2 separate regions of the Homo sapiens genome follow, and region 1 is linked to region 2. Evidence: fine-mapped expression QTL. Tissue or cell type: aorta. Region 2 holds a variant in brackets; the other region holds the start of a gene. All regions are shown on one strand. Distances are between the middles of the regions. Region 1 holds the start of MECOM-AS1 (MECOM antisense RNA 1). Region 2 overlaps MECOM (MDS1 and EVI1 complex locus).

Region 1 (5,387 bases), 30 kb before region 2:
GAAGAAATTTCTAAGCAGAAAAGCATTCAAGAGGTGACTTGGGTACTGTTAAAAGCATTCCATTTTAAAAGGTAAACAGAGCATAAAAGTTCAGAAAATTTGCAGCCTGATGATGCAGTAGAAAAGAAAAACCCATTTTTTGAGGAGAAACTGAAGCCAACTGCAGAAATTTGCATAAGTAGGAAGACCATGGGGAAAATGTAACCAGGCCATGTCAGAGACCTTCATGGCAGCCCCTCCCATCACAGGCCTGGAGGCTCAGGAGGAAAAAGTGGTTTTGTGGGTGGGCCCAGGGTCCCCATGCTGTTTGTAGTCTAGGAATTTGGTGCCCTGTGTCCAAGCCACTCCAGCCATGGCTGAAAGGAACAAACATAGAGCTTGGGCTGTGGCTTCAGAGGGTGGAAGCCCCAAATCTTGGCAGCTTCCAAGTGGCATTGAGCCTGTGAGTACACAGAAGTTACGAATTGAGGTTTGGGAACCTCTGCCTAGATTTTAGAAGACGTATGGAAATGCCTGGATGCCCAGGCAAAAGTTTGCTGCAGGGACGGGGCCCTCATGGAGAACCTCTGCCAGGGCAGTGCAGTAGGGAAATGTGGGGTCACAGCCCCCACACAGAGTCCCTACCGGGACACTTTCTAGTGGAGCTGTGAGAAGGGGACCACCATCCTCCAGACCCCAGAATGGTAGATCCACCGACAGCTTGCCCTGTGCACCTGGAAAAGCTGCAGACAATCAGTGCCAGCCCATAAAAGCAGTCAAGAGAGAGGCTCTACCCTGCAAAGCCACAGGGGCAGAGCTGCCCAAGACCATGGGAACCCCCTCTTGCATCAGTGTAACCTGGATGTGAGACCTGGATTCAAAGGAGATCATTTTGGAGCTTTAAATTTGACTACCCCACTGGATTTTGGACTTGCATGGGCCCTGTAACCCCTTTGTTTTGGCCAGTTTCTCCCATTTGGAATGGCTGTATTTACCTAATACCTGTACCCCCATTGTAGCTAGGAAGCAACTAGGTTGTTTTTGATTTTACAGGCTCATAGGTGGAAGGGAGTTGCCTTGTTTCAGATGAGACTTTGGACTGTGGACTTTTGAGTTAATGCTGAAATTAGTTAAGACATTGGGGGACCATTGAGAAGGCATGATTGGTTTTGAAATGTGAGGACATGAGATTTGGAGGGGCCATGGGTGGAATGATATGGTTTGGCTGTGTCCCCACCCAACTCTCAACTTGAATTGTATCTCTTAGAATTCCCACGTGTTGTGGGAGGGAACCAGGGGGAGGTAATTGAATCATGGGGGCCAGTCTTTCCCTTGCTACTCTCATGATAGTGACTATGTCTCACGAGATCTGATGGGTTTATCAGGAGTTTCCGCTTTTGCTTCTTCCTCATTTTCTCTTGCCACTTGCCCTGCCATGATTCTGAGGCTTCCCCAGCCATGTGGAACTGTAAGTCCAATTAAACCTTTTTTTCTTCCTAGTCTCAGATATGTCTTTATCAGCAGCATAAAACCGAACTAATACAGACACTCTCCACGCTACACAAATAAGCCTGGTCTTCCACAGAGCCACCTTGCCCTGAGTTTACATCATAGAACTTGCTAAGCTACCCTCCCTTTCCTGATAATTAAGTGGGTAGTAGTTATGTGTGTTGTGCGTTATCTTTATCTACCTTTATTATCTTAAATCCCACACCTGCACCCACTGTGAGGTCACTATTACTGTTTTTTCAGTTAAGGAAATAAAGACTGAGAGAGCTTCTCATGATCATATACCTGGTGTCAGAACCAAGATTTGAACCCAAGTCTGCCTGATTCAAAAGCCCATGCTCCTAATGACTATGCAGTGCTACTGCCCTCATCCCTATCAGGATGGCTTGTTCAGGGGGTGCACCAAGCTTTAGGCACTCCCTGCACATGCCATTGTGGTTCACTAAGTGGAAAATTAATTAACAGTTACTGAATTTTCAGTTATTTTTTTCAGTATAATTTTGTCAACAAATAAATACTTACAGGTCTAAGAATTTTTTATGTTATGAAAAGGGATCCTCATTGTAAAATATTGAAATCCAACTCCTTCATTTTATCTACAATCTAGAAGATTCTACATTAGTTCAAGTCGTCCTCATCCTTGAGATGTAAAAGAAATTGCTCTGAACCACCCAATTTCTTGACCCCTTGTGAAGATGTCTACAATTCCCAAGGGTGGAAGAATTAAGTCTTATTGGTGCCCTCTGCCACCCATGCCCTAGAGTTCTCCTGCTCCACCTCCATCTTCTCCTATAAAAATGCACCTTCTCATTCAGTAGCTAGAAGGTGGCCAGGCAAAGCAGGCATTTTGTAAATTTTAGTTGACTGGGGGAGGGAACAGATGAATAATGCAGGATGTGAGGCTTTGTAGGTTAAGATCACAAGAAGAGGTGGATGGTTATCTACTATCTCCCCCCACCAAGAACTTTTCTGACTCTGAGTTTGAGATGTCCAAAGAAAGGCAGAATCATACCTTTCTCATTGATTCTTATGTTTACAAAGTACCTTTATAAAGCGTCTACTGTGTTCCAGGTACCATGTTAATTTCTAGAAGTAAAAATGTCAACTCTGTCACTGTCTTCAAGGAATCCATAGTGGGAAGCAGAGCACACAAACAGATGTTTACAGCACAACATGATGAGTGGTTTATTACACACAAAGTATTCAGGAAACAACTAAGAGGAAGAAAAACCATCTCCACCTGGAAAGACTGGAAAGGCTACACACCAGAGCTCAAATTTGAAATACATCTCGAACAAGGATTTGGCCATGCCAAGACAGTTGAGTGGAAGGAAGTACATTCTAGGCAAAGAAAAAGCACAAATGTGACCTACAAATGAAAGATTGGTGAGTAACTCTGCATAGCTGGAATATAGGCATAAAAGAGAAGGCAAGAAATGAAGCTGAAATGGTAAGTCAGAAGTGTATTATTTAAACCCTTGTTTGTGGTGCTAAATGGCTGGGCAACTAGGAGTCATGGTGTGATCAGATCTGTAGTTTGGAAATTCAACTGGAAACTGCTATGGATGAGAGCTAGGAGAGGGGAGAAATTAGAAGCTATTATAGTGATGATGGCAACCAATGGTGAGGTGATCTTTAGGTCATCACTGGAACCTGACCTATAGTAGACATTCAAAAAATATTTTCATGTAATTGAATTTGTCTCATGAGCTCCTTGATCTAATATACTGAGCAACTAGCCTTGCTACCATATCTTGTAAAATGCCACTCGTGTTATACGTTGTGGGAATGCTTAGGTGCCTGACCAGGATTTTAAGAAGATATAGAACTAACTTAGTATTTATTTATAGGTCGCCCATCACATGCTAAGCATCTTCTATACATTATCTCATTTGTGCCACACAACAATCCTTCAAGACAGTGTTTTCACCATTTTACACAGGAGTAAAATGATGTTCAGAGTAACTAATAAACAAATTTATCCAACTAGGGGTAAAGCCAGATTTTTAATTCAGTGTACATCTAACTTCAAAGGCACCTGTAAATTTGGGATATTATGGCAAGAGAGGTACTGGTAAAGCCACATTATCTTTAATCAAATATTTTAGAATAGCATCCACAGGAGTGTGCATGTGAGACCCCTGGCCTGGGAAGAGGAGTTTGCATCCTGATTTCCTTTTTCACTGCATATGGCAGCAAACCATAATGAGTCAGACATTGTCATAACACATTGCATAATTCCAATGAAGCATTCACATCTCAACTACTCTTGATTATTTCCAATTCCGTAATAAATGAAAGAGATCAACTGTTCGGTGGTTTGAGGAGGGTGGAAAATCATTTAATTCTTAAGTACCATTAAATATTTAATACTATTATAAGGAGGTAATGTCACTTTCCATAATACATTTGGCTTCAGGTACACTGGAATCCAGATTTTGACACCTCCATACCATGATAAATTTTTGACCCTGAAATTTTATTTGAAATCACGACTCCAAAATCTCCTGTAGCCAATCTACCAGGAGTAGTATCTGTCAACAGAGAGAACATCATATAAAGACCTTAACATTTTGAAAGCAAAGCCAAATGAAGCTCAATCACGAAAGGTCTTTTCTTTCTTTAAGGTGAGAGATGGAGCACAAATGAAGCATACCATGGTAAATAGGAACTGTGCTCACTTGCAGTCATGCACTATAGCCATTAAGCCTTAAGGTCTTAAGGTACTAAGCAATGCATATGATAAATTTCTCAAAAACATCCCAGCCATAACATAGTTCTTGCTGATTGCTCATTTACCCATAATGCATGCTGTCATAGCAAAGCCTGACAAATGACAGAGAAAGCTCAGGTTATTTTTTACACTGACTGCCAAGCCCCTCACCTCAGATTATTCATTTATTAGGGCAATCACTGAGGTCTGGGTACTTAATATTGTTTTCACCAAATATGAAAATGATCTACTTGCCTATTCTTTAGTTCCTCCTAGGGCAAGCCATTTATCATCAGCTCAGGATAAATGACTGCTTCATTATAGCTATAATTTATGAGGTGTTAGAAGTAAAGAGCCACGCCTAGAGACTTAAAGCTTTAATATGGATTAAAATAAGATAATCAATCAAGCTAATACAAATTTTCCCTCAGCATTATTTCTTGTTTTGAAATAGCTTAATAATTTGGTGAGGTGGCGGTAAGCTATGTTGAATATCCCATTATCCAACTACATGCATGTATGTCTGAGACAATACGTAAAGAAATATAGGATGTGATACCATCGGAAAAAAAGAAATACAATGAAACCATCAGCTGTAATTGGCTGAAATCCTCACTTTCCTTAATGGTGTCAAACTGGAGACCAAAGAATTACAAAGCAGGTGTAAACTTGGGTAGCATATTCCCTCTAATTCTTTTTCCTCTGTAAGAATATTGTAGAAAGATTGCTGCTGTTTTACTTTTCCTTATTCTCTCTACAACAAAGAAACACTGGGGAGAAAAGTTATGTCCCAATAACATGTCAACAATTTTGCTTTCTTTTATGTCTGAAGGTTTCACAACTCATAATTTGGACAAGAGCAGCTTCTTACTCTGTCTAGGGAATAAAGAATATTTCCCTCTAAAATGGCATTACGGACTTTAAAGAAATTTTTTCTGGTTTGCATCTCAATTTTATAGTTATTAGGCTATGCCAGAACAAATATTATTTCTGAAATATGTGTCATGCTCAAGACACTAACGTAAACCTATTTGGCCACTTGAGTGAAAAGCTTTGAAGACTGTACGGGAAATTCACGATTTAGTACTTTAAACACACAGCACCAGGAAGAAAATCACCACAAGAATTAACAAATCAGCAGTCTAAAGCCAAAGACTCCAAGGTGCTAATTAAAAAAGCTTCCAAA
Region 2 (5,387 bases):
TAACCATTTTAGTTCTAACCCTGACAAGCAGCAAACTTTGTCCCCTGGCCCAACTTTATCAAGACGGTTGAAGTGTTTTTTTAAGTTATTCCCATTTTGCTTCTGGAAAAACTGGGCACAGGATGTTTCATGACCTTCCTCTTATGCACCCTGGGACTGAATTTGATCACAGTGACAAGCCAAACTGAGAATTTCTAAGGCCAGGAATACGGGCTGCCCTTTCTTTTAATGGACACATGGATGAAATGGTAATGTTTCCTTAGCACATTAAAAATAGTGACTAAAAAGTCGAAGTTTTTTTTTTTTCCGAATCTAATAGCTGTCTTAAATCGGGTAGAAAAGAAAGACGCAATCATTCCTTAAATGCATATTTAAAATTCACCAAGCCAAAGCCAGTCTTGCCAGATTTTGTAATCCTTTCCATAGTCTTTGTAAAGTACCTAGCTTGCCAATTAAAAAAAAAGGGGGAGGAGGAGGGAAACCTCAAGTGGTTTTTAACCACCAATAACAAAAACGACAAAGGTATTTTGAAACATCAGTTGCTGCTAGTTAGGAGCTAGCATGGATGTCTCTGGCTCAAAGATAATTCTTGCTCATGTTGGGTTTTTTTTTATTGCAACAGTATAAAATCAGATAAAGATAAATAAAATGAAATGGAAGCACAGAGATATTTGCTCTAAATATGGCTAAAGTGAATTTGTGGCTTGATGCCACTTTTCGCAGCTTTGTTCTCCCTAATCTAATTATGCCTTGAAGTTGTCTGCATTTGAGAAATTAATACTTTGATGAAATATCTAGCCAGTTCCATAAGCAGCAGAGGGAGAGGAAAGGGAAACATATATATAGTATTAACTCTGCCAGCCTTCAACCACCACAAGACCTCCTGGGCACAACAGTGGCCCACTAATAAAATGAAATGATAGCATATGTGCTTTGTTTAATTTTGATGTCTTCATAATGTATTACACAATTAGATTGATTTGACAATTTCCATTATGCTTGATAAAATATTTATTGAGCCCTGAAGATGATAACTCTTATCTAACCACCATTTGTTCTACAGATGTGACATATTTAATATATAAGTAACATCACTCAGATCTATGTTCCAGTTAGCCCATTACATTTTATTTGCAGAGTACAGTGTAAAGTCATCAATAACGCTTTGATAGATCCCTGTCTGCCCGGTGCTTGACAGGTGCGGAGAGAGCTTGCTCACATTCAGCGGCAGGGGCACATCAATCATGGCCAAGAAATTTACTGTGTGAAATTGGCCTCATCTGTCTCAATGCTTGATGCAGATCGAGTTTGTTCTTCTGATAGAGGTGTCGTTAGTCACCTAAGCATGCCTCCCTTGGTACTCATGCTCTCTGCAAGTAATCTTTTTTTTCTCCCCCTTCTCCCCCTTCCCTTTACATATTTTTGTGAAATTAAAATCTCGCCCTCCTGTGACCCTAATCCACATATTCTTGGCCAAAACAGGAGCCAGGTGACCTTTGAGATTACCCTTGTGAAGCCTTGCAGGTTGAGTGGAAGAAGATGCTATTTTTTGTTGATGCTGTTCTTTTTTTTTTTCTTTTTCTCCCCTAACCTCACAGGCAACATGTTCCACTGATGAGAAAACCGGCAAAGACAGGTTAGGCAGAAGAAAAGAGAGATGAGACAACGGACTGTGCCAACAAACTAAAATTTTACCTGCTGCTATGGATAAAATAGCTTTCTTTTTAGAAATACTCATGTTAATAAACTCCTACATGCGACATAATATGTGCCTAGAGGTCTGGATAAGTAAGATGTGTGTGTGTGTGTGTGTGTGTGTATATATATATATATATATATATATATATATATATATATATATACACACACACACAATTTCATTTGCAATAGGAAGTCTTCACACTGCAAAGGTCTAGGTAGATTCCTAGTTAAATGGCATTTCAAATTAAGGCATCTACCCCTGTCAAAGGAGAACTCCAAATGGTAACTGGCTCCCACAACTTCGAAGTGCTGCTGAGACCCTCATCAGCTTTTATCTTTGCGCCCCGTCATTCTCCCATGGGCAAAGAATTGCACAAAAATCTTGGAGTAAACACAAACAAGTGCCAAAATGAAGACCATCAATGATCCAAATCCTTGCAAGGTATAAAAGAGAATTTTTTTCTGAGTCCCGAAGTCAAGATTGTTATAGGCTGCAGGATTTTTATGTGAGAATGGAATTGTAAGATTAATCTTTGGCCAAGAGCACTTCTCTGTTTCTTGCAAAGGATTAGCTGACTTAAACTAGAGGCTCTGCGTCCTGCTCCTGGAGCTGCAGTCAGCTGTTTTTCCTTTGTGGAGCTTCCTGATATGCCCAAACACCTTTCTTCTTAACCTTTGTAGTTATTTCAGTATTTACTTCATTCTAAATCCTTATGCAGACTTTTTTTTTGCTTTCCAAGGCAAACCTTGTAGATAGCCAATCTGTACTGTTTCCACCAAATTAATGTGAGAGCTTGTTTTAGCAACTGCAAAACAAAAGTGATACACGGCTTCAATAAGACATATTATCTTCAGAACCTGTAAAAGTTGAGACTATCTCTAGACAAAGCGCAAGCACAGGATAGTCCTACCACTGCAGTCAAAATACCACAGAAGCTACATGCCACAGCAGGATGCCTGTCGGATAGACAATTAAAGTGGCCCAGGAATGACATATCCCCTCTTGCCAACATAATTAAGGTGTATTATTTGTCAGGGAGGTCAACGGTGAACAAATGTCCTAGCAAACTGAGAATGAAAGACAGGGAAGGAGCAGATAATGAAATTCAGGGATGACAAATGGCTCGGAGCCTGACACCGTGGCATCTGACAAAGAGAGACATCCAATGGCTCTGAAACTTTTCCTGGTGCTCTGGAAGGCTCTTGGATTTGGGGCATTTTTACATAAAGGATGTTGCATGTATCATTAATGTCATTCCATTTCCTTATAGAAAAGTATTAATATTGACAACTGTAGAAGAATGATATTGTCAAGGCAGAATTCAATATGCGGTATGGTTTTTGTCATGTGTACTCACTCTGCTGCTCCTTTGTGTCCTATCTACACTTGTTTTACAGCCACCTAGAGTAACCAGCCTATCTCCACTTTTCCCATTACTTGTTAATAGCTATTGTGCAGATAAAAATGCCTCAGAGTGACCTATAGGGACACCTCTGCC[T/C]TTGGCCAAGCACCCCCACAAGTGAGGGTACGAATACTTCCCAAGCTAAGCCAAGATTGAGTTATGTTCAGACAATAAGTATCACCAATTACTACCCTTCAGTTGTTCCCAGATACCAAAGGCTTAACCACCCACGGGAATAGCGACTGGTGCCTGCCACTTCCCTAAGGTTGTGTGTATTGTGCTAGGATATTTGATAGACTTGAGTATTATGGCTTAAAAAAACTATACAGGAGAAGGGATGCCAATTCCTAGGCTAAACCAGCTTCCTTTGTGAACAAATATCTGGGGGTGTTCCTCTGTGATAAAAACCATTTACGTCATTTTAGGCCCATTTTTAACCATACTGGGTCATTTTACAATTCAGAGAGCACAGATTAACCATACAGAGCCAGCAGTTATTGATGTGGAACACAGTAGGACTCCACAATCTTGTAATGCTACAATGATGTAGTCACTAATTTGTTTCTGCATCTAGCATTATTTATTCACCAAAATATTTGTTGATCACCTATTATGTACCAGGCATAGAACTGAATGGGAGGGCCACAGTAGTGATTCAGACAAACATAATCCCTGTCTTTACTAATACTGTAGCCAGAAAGACAGACATTAGCCAACATCTACCAAGATAACTAATTAGTCATAAATGTGATAAGTAGCAGGAGGAATGCTGGAAAAGCTTTTGACCAGCAAATCTAACATACGCTAGGGTCTCAGGCAGGAAGTGACACTTAAGGTGAGATATAAAGCAAGTAGGAATTCACATAGATAGGGATGTGAGTGTGTGTGTGTGTGTGTGTGTGCAAGAGACAGAGATGAGCAGCAACAAGAAGGAAAGGGAGGCGTCTAGGAACAGTATCTCAAGCAGAGGTAACAAAGACCCTAAGAAAGGAGAAAGTTTGGGTTGGTGGAGGAAAGAATGAAGCCCAGTGTGGCTGGAGCATAGACAGTGGAGGAGACGGTCACAAGGGTGAGGCTGGAAAGACAGGCAGGGCCAGACCATGCAAGGCTTTGAAGGCTCTTCTAAAGATTACGGCCTTCACATGCCTCTGCAATTAGAGAAAGCACTGGAAGTAAAGCCAAGCAGATATCAGCCAATGTGTCTGAGCAGTAAAGATATGGAGGTGAATGAAACGTCTCATTTTCAGATTTTCTCTTACCTAAAAAAAAAAAAAAAAAAAAAAAAATTTGCCTGATTCTCAGGCACAAATTTAGAAAGCAGACACATTTGGTGATATAACCACTAAAACTCATGCCTAATGTCTTCTAAATTTTATGGCCTTTTCCTTATAGGGACCTGAAAAGCTCTTGACAAGGCAGGAACGTGACTAATATAATTGAGCACATACTCTGTCCCAGGCACTGTGCCAGGCACCTTTAAAATCTCTTATTTTAATACTCACAAAAATGTTAAGACAAATTCCCCATTTTTTAACTGAAACAAATACAGAGTAAGTAAATTGTCCAATATCAGAAAACTACCAAGAGGCCTGAATGCTAATCCATCTGACTCCAGATTCGATGTACTTTCCACAGTGAAGACAATGGACTTTTTTCTACATTGATTCGCCTTTTGGTCAAAGTGGAGTCATCACTATTGGTATAAAAAAAGTATGATGATGGTTTTCTGTAGGTTGCCAAAGACTAACATATTGACATGTGAAGAATTCAAATATAATTGTGTTTTTTCAAGCAAGCTAGTGCTGTCTTCTTTTTATTTAATTGAAAGAGCTTCTTTATCACATATACTGTCCCATGAATACCTTCCATCCTAATCTCCACCTCAAAGCATTGGGCTCTACCTGCTAGCTTGCCTTCAACACTGCAATCTGAGTTCTTCAAGTACTACTGGAGTACTTCCCAGAAGTAGGAACAAAAGGATTTACAAGGTGTATACAGGTGGCTCGCTGGCCCTACACTGCTCTTCCTCCTTCTCATCTGCTCTCAGTCCACTGCTCCCCCAACCCCTTCCCCTGTGGCTGCCATTCCTCTCCTTCTCTTTCCCACTTTTTTTCTCATCTCTTTAGTCACTTTGCCCGTACCATTTATAATACCTCTTTACGTAAATAAGTTGGCCTTTTATATCACCAGCCATTTTTCCTTCCACTAGTCAAAGTATAGGATCCTTTAGTGTTCTCTGCTGTGTTTGTCCAAGCTGGTTGGTTGATGATAGGGCGACCTGGT

The links. PIP is the estimated chance that this variant, and not a neighbour inherited with it, causes the effect. A credible set is the group of variants that fine-mapping cannot tell apart.
Region 1: it holds the start of MECOM-AS1, and the variant in region 2 is the best candidate, but not a certain one, in a credible set for the expression of MECOM-AS1 in aorta (GTEx, PIP 0.68).

The regions. Positions count from the first base shown.
Region 1 is chr3:169,444,998-169,450,384 of GRCh38, forward strand. MECOM-AS1 (MECOM antisense RNA 1) reads left to right here and starts at 2,870. Exons shown (of 5, transcript NR_134932.1): 1 at 2,870-2,938. All of the region lies in intron 1 of MECOM (MDS1 and EVI1 complex locus), which reads right to left.
Region 2 is chr3:169,475,288-169,480,674 of GRCh38, forward strand. All of the region lies in intron 1 of MECOM (MDS1 and EVI1 complex locus), which reads right to left. MECOM-AS1 (MECOM antisense RNA 1) reads left to right here. Exons shown (of 5, transcript NR_134932.1): 5 at 1,599-1,765. Among named protein-coding and RNA genes, the nearest start is that of MECOM-AS1, 30 kb to the left of the region's middle. The variant T/C (reference allele first, on the strand shown) is at 3,201.